2 separate regions of the Homo sapiens genome follow, and region 2 is linked to region 1. Evidence: fine-mapped expression QTL. Tissue or cell type: whole blood. Region 1 holds a variant in brackets; the other region holds the start of a gene. All regions are shown on one strand. Distances are between the middles of the regions.

Evidence for each region. PIP is the estimated chance that this variant, and not a neighbour inherited with it, causes the effect.
Region 2: it holds the start of SLK, and the variant in region 1 is fine-mapped to the expression of SLK in whole blood (TOPMed, PIP above 0.99).

Annotation. Positions count from the first base shown.
Region 1 is chr10:103,921,831-103,929,937 of GRCh38, forward strand. No RefSeq gene overlaps it. Among named protein-coding and RNA genes, the nearest start is that of STN1, 7.7 kb to the left of the region's middle. RefSeq lists enhancers at 5,295-5,960, 6,627-7,292. The variant G/C (reference allele first, on the strand shown) is at 3,893.
Region 2 is chr10:103,963,614-103,971,720 of GRCh38, forward strand. SLK (STE20 like kinase) reads left to right here and starts at 3,527. Exons shown (of 19, transcript NM_014720.4): 1 at 3,527-4,282. The coding sequence starts at 4,133. LOC102724351 (a long non-coding RNA gene) reads right to left here and starts at 3,432. Exons shown (of 5, transcript XR_007062282.1): 1 at 2,168-3,432. RefSeq lists silencers at 3,389-3,848, 3,889-3,938, 3,949-4,048 and enhancers at 7,398-7,899, 7,900-8,107.

The sequences.
Region 1 (8,107 bases):
TAAAAAGCCAGCCACACAGAGCTAAGCAAAGAGCATTTCAGGCAGCAGTCAAAGCAAGGGCCACCGTGTGGAGGCAGCAAAATACTTCCCTGTTCAAGGAACAGAAGAGAGTGTGGGGAGAGCGGTTGCATATGCAATGGAGAGATAGGCAGGAGGCAGATCCGAGGGACCTTGTAGGCCATGGTTGGTGTGGATTTTAGTCTTAGTCTCACTCTATGTGAAAAGGGTACTGTGATGCTGTGATGGAGTGGGAGCACGGCATAGGCAGCAGGATGGGCGAGTCATGTTCCTGGGTAAGCCAACACAGCAGCCTGGCTGGAGAGGGAGGCTGCAGTGGAAGCCACCTGGAGACCAAGATTTTAGTTAGATTCTGAAGGTCTTGAGCTAGCTTCTACCTTTATTCCTGTAAACAACGGGAGTTGTTAATTATTCATCAGAGGAACGATTTAATGAATTTAAAAATTGTAGTTAGGCTGGGTGTGGTGGCTTACCCCTATAACCTCAATATTTTGAGAGGCCAAGGAGGGAGGATTGCTTGAGCCCAAGAGTTCAAGACCAGCCTGGGCAACATAGTGAAACCCCATCTCCACAAAAAAGAAAAATATCAGCAGGGCATGGTGGTGTACACCTGTAGTCCCAGCTACTCAGGAGGCTGAGGTGGGAGGATCGCTTGAGCCCAGGAATCCGAACTTGCAGTGAGCTGTAGTCATGCCACTGCACCCTAGCCTGGACAACAGAGCAAGACTCTCTCTCTCTCAAAAAAAAAAAAAAAGAATTGTAGGTATACCTGCCACATCTAACATACTACGGTGGGGGGTACAAAAATGTATAAGAAGTGTTCTCAATCCAATTTACTGAATCTATCCTAAAAATTGTGTCTTACGGATATTCATCAATTGGTGGTGAAGAAACTAGAATAAGAAAACATTTCTGGGCCTAATGCAGTGGGCCTCATCTGTATCACTTGTCCTCCTGCCTCCTTAGCAACCTGGCTCAATCCCTTATGATGTCATCCTCCCTCTCTCTCTGGCTTCCCCTTGGCCCATAAGCACGCTCTCCTGCTCTCTTTAACATCATCCAAACTTTCCAAAAGCAGCATCTCTGAAGACCCCCTTCTCCCCTTTAACTACTGCCCTCCAGCTCACTCTCATCTCCTTTCAAAGCAAAGCTCCTTGGAAGAGTCCTAAATGCTTCCTATCTGTACTTCTCTGTGGTAGGTCTCTAATTCAACCCACCATCATTTGGCTTATCTTGGTCTTCAACCCACCCCACCACAGCCCACCACTCGACTGACATTGCTCTCCTAAGACTCACAATAACCTTAGCAGATTCAAATTCAATGAATACTTTTCTTTCCTTATCATTCTGTATCTTTTTTTTCTTGATGTACTAGTATTTGATGTTGATTTGATCATATTTTCTCTCAGTCCCACCTTGGCTTCCTGATGGGTTTTCTCACCTTTTAGGTTTTCCTCCTACTGCCTCTGTTTCTTCCTTCTCAGTGTCCTCTCCTGTTATCTCTTTTACATGTTGATGTTCCCCAAGGTTCAATCTCCTGCTCATTTCCCTTCTTACCCTATGTACTTTCTCTGAGTGGCCTTATCCAAACCTATGACTTCAGTGGAAACAATCTTCTAGTGACTCTCAATTCTTCACATCCAGCCCAGAACACTCTCCTGAGTCTGTCATGTGAATTTCCAACCAGACTCTCCTGGATACCTCAAAGTAAACCTCTTCCCCATTTCTCCTTTCTAAGTCAGGATGAATGTCAGGATGAATGTCACCACCACCTGCCTTTTGTCGAAGTCAGAAACCTGGAATGTTTCAAGGACACCTCCCTCTGTTTCACCCTACAATGTAATTAGTCATGAAGACCTGTCAGTTCTGTTTTCTAAATGCGTTTTCGTAACTCAGCCTCTCTTCCCTGTTCCCACTGCCATAACCTGAGCCCAGGCTTTTGTCATTTATTGCCTGGGTTACTGACACTACCTTCCAACTAGTTTCTTTGCCTTTAGCCTGGCTTTCTTCCAATTCATCATCTGTGCCACTGTCAAGGTGAGCCTTATAAAATGCAAATTAAACTATGTTACTCCCTTGTCTGAAATATTTCAATGGCTCTATGTGGTCTGCAGAATAATGTTCAAATCTCTTAGCATTTCCTACCAAGTTCCTCCTGGCCTGGCCTCTCCAGGCTCATCTCCCATCAGTCCCTCATAGCCATCCTACACTTCAGACCATCATCTCTCCAATGCTGTTCTGAAGAATACATCCTCAAAATATTGAAGAAAGTTTGCCCAAATAAGTCTGGACTTAAATCCAATCAATAGTTTACATTGGAATACACAACTCAAGCTATTTGGAACAACTTATAGTTCCTACAATATGCCACTCTGTCTTTTGCTTCTCCCCTTCTGCCTAGGATACCATTCACTTATTAATTAATTGATTACAAAAGTCAACTGTTCTGTATCTGCTGAGCAGACTGAAAAAAGTGCTGTATCCTGGGCATACAAAAGGAAAAAAGGCTCCAGGTGAGCCAAACAAGTAAACAGACAATTACAATATGTCATGATAAATGCTGTATAACTTAGCAGCATAAAGTGGGGGCCCTGAGTTGGAGTAATCAGAGGACAGTAACTTTTCCCCCTGCTTCATGTGAGTTATCTCTGAGAAAGGTGTCAGTTTTACTTTATGTATTTTGAGCTTAGTTGTTAAAGGCACATATATTTCTAATTGTTATGTCTTTCTGATGTATTGACTCTTATTGTTATGAAATTGTTCCTCTTTGTCTCTAGTAATATTTCTAGTTTTAAAGTCTGTTTTGTCTGTTAATATAACCATTTCAGTCCTCTAATAGTTACTCTTTGAATGGTGTATCTTTTTCCATCTTCTTACTTTCAGCCTATTTGTGTCTTTGAATCTAAGCCTCTTATAGATATCATATAGTTGGCTCTTGTCTTTTTATTCAGTCTAATAATCTCTGGGTTTTGATTGGGGTATGTAGACCATTCACATTTAATGTAATTGTTGATATGGTTAGATTTATATTTGCTATTTTTCTATTTGTTTTCTATATGTCAACTTTCTTTTTTATTAATCGGTTAATCCTTGATTGCTTTCCTTTTTTCTTTTCTTTTGTGTTAAATATTTTTAGGGTAACGTCTGAATTACTCCACATTTTGAAAAAAGTTTTAGCTATTTCTCAGAGATTGTAGTCTAAGAATTACAATATATGTCTTTATTTATCATAATGTACTTCAGATTAATACTAAATTCCTGAAAAACATAAAAATTTTGCTTCAATATTCTTCTATCCCTCCCACCTTCTTTGTGCTATTATTTACATATATATTACATCTATATGTTATAAACACAGCAATACAATGTTGTAATTATTGCTTTATACAATCTCATGTCTTTGAAAAAAGTTAGATAAGAAATGAGAGGCCGGGCGTGGTGGCTCATGCCTGTAATCCCAGCACTTTGGGAGGCTGAGGCGGGCGGATCACCTGAGGTCAGGAGTTCAAGACCAGCCTGACCAACAAGGAGAAACCCCGCCTTTACTAAAAATACAAAATTAGCTGGGCATGGTGGCACATGCCTGTAATCCCAGCTACTAGGGAGCCTGAGGCAGAAGAATCGCTTGAACCTGGGAGGTAGAGGTTGTGGTGAGCCGAGATCGTGCCATTGCACTCCAGCCTGGGCAACAAGAGTGAAACTCCGTCTCAAAAAAAAAAAAAAAAAAAAAGAAATGAGAAGAAAAATTACCATAGATGATTTTGTAATAACCTGTATAACTATTACTTTTGTGCTCTTCATTTTTCCCTTTAGGAATGGGTACTCCAAATTGAATGAGCCCCTTTGACTGTGGTAGAGGTGCTGCTTGCGCTGA[G/C]AGCTTGCCCTTCCCAGACAGAACATCTACATTAACCAAGCTGGGGTCAGCAAGGGGAATGAGAGAGGCCCCAGGCCAAATGCATCAGATGCTCACTGTTCTTACCTGGAGTTCAGTCATTTTCAAGCATAACTGCTTTCAGACTGTTGTGTGTCTTTGATCTCAGAGTGCTGAAATGGTTGTTTTGGTCAGTTTTGTCCAGTTTTATGTTTGCATTTTGGCAAGATGATTTGCTGATCTTGTCAGTCACCCATAACTAGAAGTTATTAGTGATATAGCTTTTAGTTAACAGCAAGTCCATTTGGTCAGGGGGAATAAGGTGGCTCAAGAATTTAAGGAGTGAAGGACTGAATTGTAGAACAAAGTCAGAAATTGCCTAGTTGTAGATAACAGTTACAGCCCATCCCGCCTCATGGACTTTGAAGGAGATTCCTGTGTCAGCAGAAGGCCCCAGGTGAACCAGGGTGCAATTCGCATTTCTGCTTCTTCTCATTCTTGGAATAAGCAGAAGCAGATATAAAAGGGAGAGATGGCTGAGGGTGAGATACCCTCTAGGTCCTTACACTTATGAGACTGACAGTGCTGCCCACTGCATCAAGAGGGCTACTTGGGTCCTTTCATGTGAGTCAAATAGCTCATCCTTCCTGTCCAAATGGCAGGAACTTGACCAAAGGATTATGACCCTTGCAAAGATGAAGAGGGCAGGAGGTAATGGGCTAGGGTTCATTCTGGAGAGCAGAGAATGACTTTAATTAAGGAAAATTTGTGTCCCAAGAGACTGGATTGAGTACACAAGAGAACTTTGCGTTTTGTGCTTTAAAAATCTGCATCTTGAAGAAAGTGGAATGATGGTTGTCAGGGGCTGCGGTAGGGGGGATGAGGAGTTACTGATTAATGGGTACAGAGTTTCAGTTTTGCAAAATGAAGAGATCTGGAGATGGATGGCAGTCATAATTGCACAATAATATGGATATACTTAATACCACTGAACTGTACGCTTAAAATGGTTAAGATGGTAAATTTTATGTTACATGTATTTTAACACAATTTTTAAAATTAAGAAAATCAAAGAATTTTTTTAGAAAGCCTGTATCACAGGGCAACACTGTGCATGGTTTGTGGAGTTTATGGTATAAAAATCTATGTGACTGTTGCCTGGCGTTCTACATTATTCCTGGTCATTTAAGTCATAAATCCACAGTGTCTTGCCAACTTTGGAAGTTCCCATGATTACTGGTAGTTTATGTGATAGGTGAACTCCCTTTTTTTTTTTAACTGGACTCAGGCTTATAATTAAGTGAGTGGAAACAATCAGCCAAGTCTTGATGCACATGCACTCTTCTGAGAAAGTCCCAGAGTATTGCTCTGACAGATGACAGATGTCCTTACAGGGACAGAGCTGGCAACACATCGACCTCCCTAGTGGTCACCAGCTGCTAGTGGGTCCACCAGCTGGAAAACACCTTTGTGTTATTCTTATATTTCTCTTCTCATAAAAATGCTACAAAGATTGTAAGGCATTTGGAGCTGGGTAAAGATTAAGTTTTGGAGAAATTGGATTAATATTCATTATAATAGGCCAGGATAAAAGAATTAATGAAAATGTCAAAAAGAAAAAATAACTTTTCTTTTTAGGCAGGACATTTATAAAAATTTATAGTCTTGGTCAAATAAATTGTGTACAGACATACATACAATTTTTTTTTTTTTTGAGATGGAGTCTTGCTCTGTCGCCAGGCTGGAGTGTAGTGGCACGATCTCGACTCACTGCAACCTCTGCCTCCTGGGTTCAAGCGATTCTCCTGCCTCAGTCTCCTGAGTAGCTGGAATACAGGCGCCCACCACCATGCCCAGCTAATTTTTGTATTTTTAGTAGAGATGGGGTTTCACCATGTTGGCCAGGATGGTCTCGATCTCTTGACCTCATGATCCGCCCACTTCTGCCTCCCAAAGTGTTGGGATTACAGATGTAAGCCACCGTGCCCAGCCCATACATACGATTTTAAAAGTAATCTAAAGGGATGTTTTCCAATTTTTTTTTCTTTTTGGTAGAGTTGGGGGCCTCACTATATTGCTCTGGCTGGTCTTGAACTCCTAGGTGCAAGTGATCCTCCCGTCTCAGCCTCTCCAAATGTTGGGATTATAGGCCTGAAACACCGCACCCAGCTCCAATTTTTAAAATGTTGAGTATATATTAATTACAAAAGCTATTTCTCTTGAATCTCTCAAATGTGATGTGGAATGAAAGAAGGCAAACACAGAAGACAGTACATATCATATGACTCTATTTATATAAAGTACAAAACCAGTCAAAGCTGTTCTATGCTATTAGAGGTAAAGAATCAATTACCCTTTGATGAAGGGTGTTGACTTCAAAGGAGCATGAAGAGGGCTTGTGGGGCTACTGGTTATTTTGTGTTTCTTGATCTGTAGCTATATTATATTTCAATAAAGTATTTTTTTCAAGTTTGCATTCTTCTTAGTGTTTACAGTTACATTTAAAGTTGAGAGGAATTAAAAAGTGAGTGTGTGAATGTGTAAGACCCCACATTTTGCCTTCTTGTCACTCGTATGGAAAAACTGATCATTTTTCACGAGGTCAGGAGATCGAGACCATCCTGGCCAACATGGTGAAACCCTGTCTCTACTAAAAGTACAAAAATTAGCTGGGAGTGGAGGCGCGTGCCTGTAATCCCAGCTACTCGGGAGACTGAGGCGGGAGAATCCCTTGAACCCAGGAGGCGGAGGTTGCAGTGAGCCGAGATCGCACCACTGCACTCCAGTATGGCAACATAGTGAGACTCCGTCTCAAAAAAAAAAAAAAACTGATCATTTTAAATGTTAATGTGATTCCAGAGAAAACACAGAGCATTATTTTGTACTTTGCTTTATTTTTCAACATGTGCCTGTAAACCAAAGAATATCTGAGACAAGACTCAATTTAGGAAGTTTATTCTGCCAAGGTTAAGAATGCACTCGTGACATGGCCCCAGGAGTCCTGAAGACATGTGCCCAGGGTGATTGGGGCACAGCTTGGTATTTTACATTTTAGGAAGACACGGGACATCAATCAATATACATAAGACGTACATTGGTTTGGTCCAGAAAGGCAAGACAACTTGAAGTGTGGTGGGGGCTTCCAGGTCACAGGTAGATAAAGGACAAACGGTTGCATTCTTTTGAGTTTCTGATGAGCCTTTCACTGAATACGGCAATTTACAGGAACAGTCACTTAGGCCTTTGTCTGGCTTAGTGAAACAATAGGCCGAAGGTAGCAATCAGATATGCATTTGTCTTACGTGAACAGAGGAATGGCTTTGAGTTCTGTCTGTCCTTTTGTCCGCAGGGAATTTTCTTGTGGGCAGATTGTAAGGGAGGTATATAGCTTTTTTATCTTTGTAGCTATCTTATTGAGGAGTAGAATGGGAGGCAGGTTTGCCCTATGCAGTTCCCAGCTTGACTTTTCCCTTTGGTTTAGTGATTTGGGGGTACTGAGATTTATTTTCCTTTCACATGCCTATAGGTTCAAGTAGCCATGACATTTCATGAGCATTAGCATAAAGCTGGGCGGCTGAATAGAATTTTGTTTCTCTTATCAACTTATAATTTTCCCCAGGGCTACTTTCAATCTAGGAAAAATTTAACTCCCCAATGATGTCAAAGACAGCATATTCCAGAGATTAATTAACGAGTCACCCAGAGAAGATAGAAGTGCTATTATGCTGACATGTTCAAGGGCTAATCGGTTCTGATGATGTAATTTGCAGTAGTGCTTGATGTATATTAGCCTGATGGGTGACAGCTGCTCTGGGCCCAGATGATTAAAGTGTGAAGCACGAGGGTGGGGTGGAGGGTCGTCGGGGTGTGGTGAGTGCTTTCAAATGGAAAGAGAGTTTTTTTATAGAGCCAGAGTGAATACAGCCTGGTTATGCTGGTTACCTCACCTACCACCTAGAAAGCCTGTTTAATCATCTCTTTATCTACACAGACTTTATCAGGCCTAACACAATCTCCACTCCCGCCTCCCCTCAGCCAAGACCGCCCCAGTCAACATTGGCTGATGCTCCCTTCCCCAAACAACTGTGCAACTTACAGTCAGCATCACATACTTTAGCACCTATTTCTTCAATAGTTATTTCAGGAATGTGTACCATGTTCCCCAACTTAAGCATAAGCTACTTAAGAACATCATTTTTTTCTATGTTCTCCACAGCA
Region 2 (8,107 bases), 42 kb after region 1:
AGGAGAATTGCTTGAACCCAGGTGGTGGAGGTTGCAGTGAGCCGAGATCACACCACTGCACTCCAGCCTTGGCGACAGACGGAAACTTCATCTTAAAAAATATATATATATATATATTTATATATATATATATATACACACATACACATACATACACACAGAAAAAAACATATATAGGCCTAACTTTTTCAAAGTAGCTTTATTGAGGTATAATTTACAAAGCATATAATTCACCCATTCTAAGTGTAAAATCATCACCATAATCTAGTTATAAAACCCTTTTTTATTGTCCCCCAAAATTCTCTCATGCTCATGGGCTTAACTTTTTTTATTTGGCCATGTATTATGTTATTAAAAGGAAAAGCTTTTACAAGAGGCTCATTTCCATTTCTTTTTTTCATAATATATGAAAAAATTTATGATAATATTTCTATTTCTTTTTTTTTTTTTTTGAGACAGGGTCTAGCTCTGTCGCCCAGGTGAAGTGCAGTGGCACGATCTCAGGTCACTGCAACCTCCGCCTCCCAGGTTCAAGCGATTCTCCTGCCTCAGCCTCCCGAGTAGCTGGGATTACAGATGCATGACACCACACCCGGCTAATTTTTGTATTTTTGTTAGAGACGGGGTATTGCCATGTTGGCCATGCTCATCTCAAACTCCTGACCTGAGGTGATCCACCCACCTCAGCCTCTCAAATTGCTGGGATTACAGGTGTGAGCCCCCGTGCCCAGCCTATTTCTATTTCTTAATGGTGTCAGAACTTTATCTTTGCTTTGCTAGTGACTTTTTAAAAACCACTTATTGAATTATGATTGACATACAATAAGCTGCTCATACTTAATGTATATAACTAGATGAGCTGGGTGATAACTGTACATCACCACTGCCTATTACATAAACATATCCATCATCACAGGCTTAACTTTTAACAGTGGTTAGGTCGAGGGTAACTATGAGTAGGGGGGAAGGAAGGAGGACAGAACTATAGACAGCTTCCTAGTTTATAATTTCTGTATTATTTGAATTATTTACAACAAAAATATACTATCTTTCATTTTTATTTTTTCTTCGAGACAAGTTCTAGCTCTGTTGCCCAGGCTGACGTGCAGTGGCACAAACATGGCTCACTGCAGCCTCATCCTCTTGGGCCCAAGTGATCCTCCTGCCTCAGCCTCCCCAGTAGCTGAGACCACAGGTGAGTGCCACCATGCCCAGCTAATTTTTCTGTTTTTAATTTTTGGTAGATGTGATCTCGCCATGTTGCCCAGTCTGGTCTCAAATTCCTGGGCTCAAGAAATCCTCCCACCTCAGCCTGGGATTATAGGTGTGAGCCACCCCACCCAGCCAGTAATACACTATCTTTTAATTGACAAAATAGTAAAGTCTTTTCTATTTTGAAAAGAACAAAATAAGGAAACAGACATATACCCATTGACCGAAATCTACTTTTGGCAATTTATCCTAAGGAAATAATCAAATATGTGGAAAAAGATTTGTGTACAAAGATATTTATCCGTATTTTATTAAAAACAGAGGAATTATAATCTAAATATCTCATAATGGAAGAGAACAATTATTAATTGTATTGAAATATGCGAAGTGCAGGATGCAAACCTTTTTATGTAATACAACCTCAACCATGTTGAAAAAAGTTAATGCACAACCAAAAAAATCCTGTTTTGAAATATAAGTTCTTATCAATGGTTGTGTCTGGATAGTAGAATTATAGTACTTTTAATTTAATTTTATTTTTTAAGCATTTCATTTTCTCCATAAATGATAATAATTACAAATAATTATAGTATTGTTTTCACAGGTCTATACATTTGTCAAAACATATAAAAGTGCACACTTGCAGCAAACCACCATGGCACGTGTATACCTATGTAACAAACCTGCACGTTCTGCATGTGTATCCCAGAACTTAAAGTATAATTTTAAAAAAAAGCAAACAAGTACTAGCAAAAAAACCAAATGCACACTTTAAATATGTACAGTTTATTGTATATCAATATATTGCAATAACACTTAAAAAAATAGAAGGATCTCAAGGAATTGAATCATCTTAAGCGTCTTACTGGAAGGGGGGTTTTGCTATGCCATTTTGGGGCTGAAGGGCAAAATGACTGGGGGGGCAGACATTATATAAATAGCAATATATACATACATTGTCTCTGCTCCAGATACCGCCATTCATTCATTCATTCACCAGATCTGCCTTCCTATTATATGCCAGGAATGTTGCCGGGTACTTGGATATCTTGATGAACAACAAACCACTGGCCTGAAAGAGCTCCCGTCTGGTGGAGGAGGGGAAGGTAGGTCACCACCTGACGGATTCCAGCCAACGTCCACACTGCCCCACCAGGGAGTGCTGCCCAAGGGGGCTGGAGGCAGATCAGGAAGTGGGGGCCTTAGCTGAGGTGGAGTCACCAAGAGTGACACCAGGTTTACAGTTGTGGAGGTGGCCAGAAGTTAGTTTTACCCTCAAGGGAGTGTCGCAGTCATCAGTTGAGAAGTGGGGGCCCGGCGCGGTGGCTCACGCCAGTACTTTGGGAGGCCGAGGCGGGCGGATCACGAGGTCAGGAGATCGAGACCATCCTGGCTAACACGGTGAAACCCCGTCTCTACTAAAAATACAAAAAAATTAGCGGGGCGTGGTGGCGGGCGCCTGTAGTCCCAGCTACTCGGGAGGCTGAGGCAGGAGAATAGCGTGAAGCCGGGAGGCGGAGCTTGCGGTGAGCCTAGTTCGCGCCACTGCACTCCAGCCTGGGCGACAGATCGAGACTCCGTCTCAAAAAAAAAAAAAAAAAAAAAAAAAGAAAGAAAGAAAAAAAAGAGAAGTGGTCTTAAACAGTTTTTATGTATCTGTGTCTATCTTGCCTGCACACTTAAAACAACAAGAGTAAGAACTAAGATTGAGCGTTTACGGGTGCAGGGGCCGCGCAAAGGGCTTCCATCTATTGTCTCATTCACAACCTTCTGGTAGGGACTATTAGGATCTTCATTTTACGGCGAGGAAACCGAGGCTCGGAGAGGTCACCTGCCCAAGGTCACAGATCTCTCTCTCCAAAGCTCAAGCTCACAACCACCACACAAACTCCCCTCTCACTGTACCTGGGGCCCGTCTGAGAGCGAAAAAGTCCGCTTTCAGGTCCCAACCCTAACAGGTCCGGCTTTCACTCCACAGTTTTTCCCAGATCCAGAATGGAGACAACATCCGCTAGCACAATCAACAGGGTCGTCCCACGGGGGCCGCTCCATCAAGGCCGTGGACTGACAGGATTTGGGGCTTGGAGGGCAAATGAGAAACAATCGTCAGGGACCGAAGAACAAATGCGTCCATCACACCAGCCCCCCGCACCCCGAGCCCCGTGCTCCGCTCACGCGAACCCTCGGGGGCAGCCAGTCTGAGGGACGTAGCGCGCGTGCGCGGGGCCAGAGGGGACGCCCCCACGCGAGCGCGCGGTGAGCAGGGCGCGTGACCGGGCGGGCGCGCAGCCGGGAAAGCGCGCGGGCGCGCTACGGAGTCGGCGTCGGCGCGCGCTCCAGGCCGAGGCTGTGTGGGCTGGGGAGGGAGACAGGCGGCGGCGGCGGCGCCCCAGACCCGAGGGGACGCGCGGGCCTTGCGCCGCGGGAGCGGACGGCGGCGGAGGAGACCCTAGGCTCGCGGCCCGAGGCGGGAGGGCTCGGCTTCTCGACTGCCCGCCTCCGAGGCCGCCGGCCGCTTCTCTCTCCCAGAGTGGCCGCCGCCCCTGGAGACTCGCCGTGACACGGGCCTAAGCCGCCGCCGCGGGAGTCCTGACCGCTCGGACCCGTCGGATCAGGCCGGGTGGGAGCGAGCTTGCGGGCAGGTGCCGCTCCCGGAGGGTGGGCCGGAGGCGAGGCGCCCACCGCGCGGCTCGCGGGCCGGGCTCGGCGGAGGGGCCGCTCGCGCAGCACCCCCACCGCGGGCCGGAGCCCGGGTCGCCGCCCCGCCTTCTCCCGGGACCGCCCGGCCGGAGCTGCGGGGGCCGAGGGACGCCGCGCCCGCCGCCGCCAGCCGGGCTCGCGCGGGAGAGCAGGGAAGAGAAACTTTGCCTTTTATTGTTTTTAGTCCTTAAGTGCAAGGAACTCTGTGTTGGGAGGAAAAATGTCCTTCTTCAATTTCCGTAAGATCTTCAAGTTGGGGAGCGAGAAGAAGAAGAAGCAGTACGAACACGTGAAGAGGGACCTGAACCCCGAAGACTTTTGGGAGATTATAGGAGAACTGGGCGACGGAGCCTTTGGGAAAGTGTACAAGGTAAGAGGGGGAAAACGGGAAGTTGTACTGCGAAGGTAAAACAGCCACTGGCCTGGAGTGGCGGGAGGACTTCTGCTCCCCTGGTCCTTATCCTGTCCTTCTTTTGACTGTTACGGTTCGATGCAACTTTACTTGGCTGATCATCCAAGGAGTAGCTAAGAAGTCGGGTTTACGGTGGAACAAAATGGGGCCTGGATGGAGTTTAAAGAGCGATTGGAAAAGGAGACAGGGTTATAAAGTCTACTCTTTCAAACTTCAAAGGAAATGAGAGTGTTCTTTAATTTATAGGAGGGGTCTGGTTGTGCCCTTCAAGTATTTTAGAATGAGAAACTCATTGCACTTTGCAGTGGATTTGTCTACTGACTGCATTCGCGTGCATGCTTGTACTCCAACAGTTCTGTTTTTAGGGTCCAGTATATATATTTGGTTGTATCTAGAGCTAATACAGAACTAGTTGGGATCAAAGTGATTGCTACTTGCAGTCTCTTCTTGAGTTAGTTGCTTGACAGCATACTATAAAATAGAATGGAATTTCTGACAAAATTTCCAAAAAACCTTCATGTGGTACTAGTTTTAAATATATTTATGGTAAGCATTGACTAGAAGTCAGTATCAGCGCTTAAGCAGTTAAAAACACACACGCATGTATTTATTTCAATAGAAAGAGGCTTGGCGTTTCAACCTGAAGGCATTAATGTTAACTATTTAATATCTCCTAAGGAACATATGAATGATGTCATTGGAGTATTTTCATCCTGAAGGGCGAATTTTTTATGAGACAGCGTTTAGGGGAAGGACCCACAGGGTTGCCTAGAAGTGAAAACGTAAGAAAATAACTTATGTTTATACAGGACTTTGAAGTTTTTAAGTACTTTCAAATAATTTGGCCCCCACAAAAATCTTGTGAGGTAGGCAGGTCAGTATTAGTATCCACATTTCACAGATGAAGATATTGAAATTGTTCACAGTCACATGAGTCTCAGCCTAGACTTGAACTCAGGTCTTCTGAGCCCATATTTAGTATTGTTTTTTATTTTAACAGTCACTGGTAGAAATGAGAGCATTTTGCCTACTACTTTCTTTTTTTTTTGAGACGGAGTTTCGCCCCTTTTGCCCAGGCTGGAGTGCAATAGCGCGATCTCGGCTCACTGCAACCTCCCCCTCCCGGGTTCAAGCGATTCTCCTGCCTCAGCCTCCCGTAGTAGCTGGGTTTACAGGCATACGCCACCATGCCCGGCTAATTTTGTATTTTTAGTAGAGACAGGGTTTCTCCATGTTGGTCAGGCTGGTCTTGAACTCCCGACCTCAGGTGATCCGCCCGCCTCGGCCTCCCAAAGTGCTAGGATTACAGGCGTGAGCCACCGTCCCCGGCTGCCTACTACTTTCTAAGCACCATTACACTTCTGCCTCTGCCCTGCCTCAAATGCATCTTGTCAAAACCCCAGTCCTCATTCTTTATCCAGGCTAAAATATCTACTCCTCTCTGTGTGCTTTCAGAACACGTTGTTCACATGGCTATTATAGCACTTGTCACTTATTACAATTAATATGTTTATGTTTCTATAATAAAATTAAGGGCCAAAATTATGATACATATTTGGGTTCATTCACTGCCTTAGCGTATAGTGATGTGTCTGTTTATTTGTTGAAATGAAAGAATGTGTTTTGTCTGCATATGAATGCTGTCGTGGAAGCTATCATAGGCTGTGGAAGTTGGCAAAATAAGCTTTGTTATTTGTGTGGAGGGTAGAGTATGGGCTTCAGCAAGAGCTTCATAAGATGCAAGGCTTCATTGTAGTGGGAAGATCACTCCTGGGAATCAAGAGTTGTGTTTTAGTGCTGGCTGTCACAAACCAGCGTTGTAATCCTGGACAAAACACTTAACTTCTCTGGACCTCCGTTTTCTTAGCCATAATATTAACTTTCTTAGGAGTTTAGATTCTTTCACCCATTAAAGTTCTGTGAGTATGTAATTAGCCTGGAAAGGCAAAAATAAATGCTCAAGGCACCTAGAATCTTGTAGTTAGAAGGTGGTAGGTGATTATGGGCAGTTTTCATGGTGTAAATAAGTTTTATCGAATATAAACAGCTTAGTAGTAAGAGCACTGGCTCTGGAGTTGGAATATAACTTAGCTCTCTCACTCAATAGCAGCATATGACCTTGAGCAAGTTTCTTATTTGTCCTGTGCCTAACTTTGCTCATCCATAAGACATCCTCAGTGTGAGGATTGAAAAAGATAATATAAGGCACATGGAAAGGGCTCAGTAAATGGTAGAAATTACTGTTATTACATTTAGAGCTCATAGATGCAAACTTTGGGATGAGATAGGGAAAGGAACCAAGAAGATAATAAACCATTTTGTTGGTTTCTAATGGCATGGGCAGACTGTGTGGAGATACTAAAGCCCTGTGTTATTCTTTCATGACACTTTCTGCAAAATGTGATCTATCTTCCTGTACTGAGACATTAATTGAAAAATTTCTGAAGAACAAGAGTCTTATTTCATGTAGTTATTTGAGCACTATAAAATTGTGTCAAGGAGAATTTCTGTGATCTTGATGACTGTATTTTAGTATGATATTTGAAGAGCACGGGCTGGCACTATTTTTTCTTTTTTCATTTCACTACTCTCTGCTTCTAAGGAGTAGGGTATGAGTTTTTTAAAAAATAAAATTTGAAATTAAAACTTATCTGTCTTCTTATGGCCTCTTTTTTCTAAAAGTTTTTGTTTTTCAAGATTCCATAGAAATTGAGGATTTATAAACTTCCTTATATTTGGAAGAAAAAGCTATGGAACCTTAACATAGTACGTAGTAGTATGTAGTAGAAAACTGTTTATAAACTTGATTCTAACTATCATTTGCTTACAGAAATTAGTAACTGTTACAAAGATTATATTGTAAATAGAGATGAGGTTGAGTATCCCATTTCCCAAATGCTTGGGACCAGAAGTGTTTTGGATTTTGGAATTTTTTGGATTTTGGAATATTTGCATTATACTTAGTTATTGAACATCTGAAATTGAAAATGCTCTAGTGATCATTTCCTTTGAACATCATGTCATGTTAGCACTCAGAAAGTTTCAGATTTTGGAGCATTTCAGATTAGATTTTCAGATTTGGGATGTGTAACCTATAGGTAATCATGTTGTGTATTTAGTCTGAGTCATTCTTCCATCGTGTACTTGTTGTATTCCTTCCACTCAGTCCAGCACTGTACACATTTAACAGTTACTTCCTTGCCTGAAAAAGCTTCACTACTTTAAATTTATTTTCTCTTTTAAAAATAGTATTATTTGACATATAAATGAAGATATGTAATATCCTTCACAATATTTTATCTTTGGGTTTCTCTTTTTTTGTTGTTGTTGTTTTGTTTGTGTTTTGTTTTGTTTTGAGATGGAGTCCCTCTCTGTCGCCCAGGCTGCAGTGCTGTGGCGCAATCTCGGCTCACTGCAACCTCCGCCTCCCAGGTTCAAGCAATTCTCCTGCCTCAGCCTCCGGAGTAGTTGGGATTACAGGCACGCACCACCGTGCCGGGCTAATTTTTTGTATTTTTAGTAGAGACGGGGTTTCACCATGTTTGCCAGGGTGGTCTTTCCTGACCTCAGGTGATCCGCCTGCCTTGGCCTCCCAAAGTGTTGGGATTAGAGGCATGAGCCACTGCCCCTCACCCCCTGCTGGATTTCTCTTGTTTTTAACAGAAAAAAAAGAATGACATAAGATTATGAATTGAATTGCATTTCTAGAAAGCTATTTTATCTATTAAACCAGTTGAAACTAAACTCTTGGCTGTGTGCTGGATGAAAGTAGTTTTTATATGA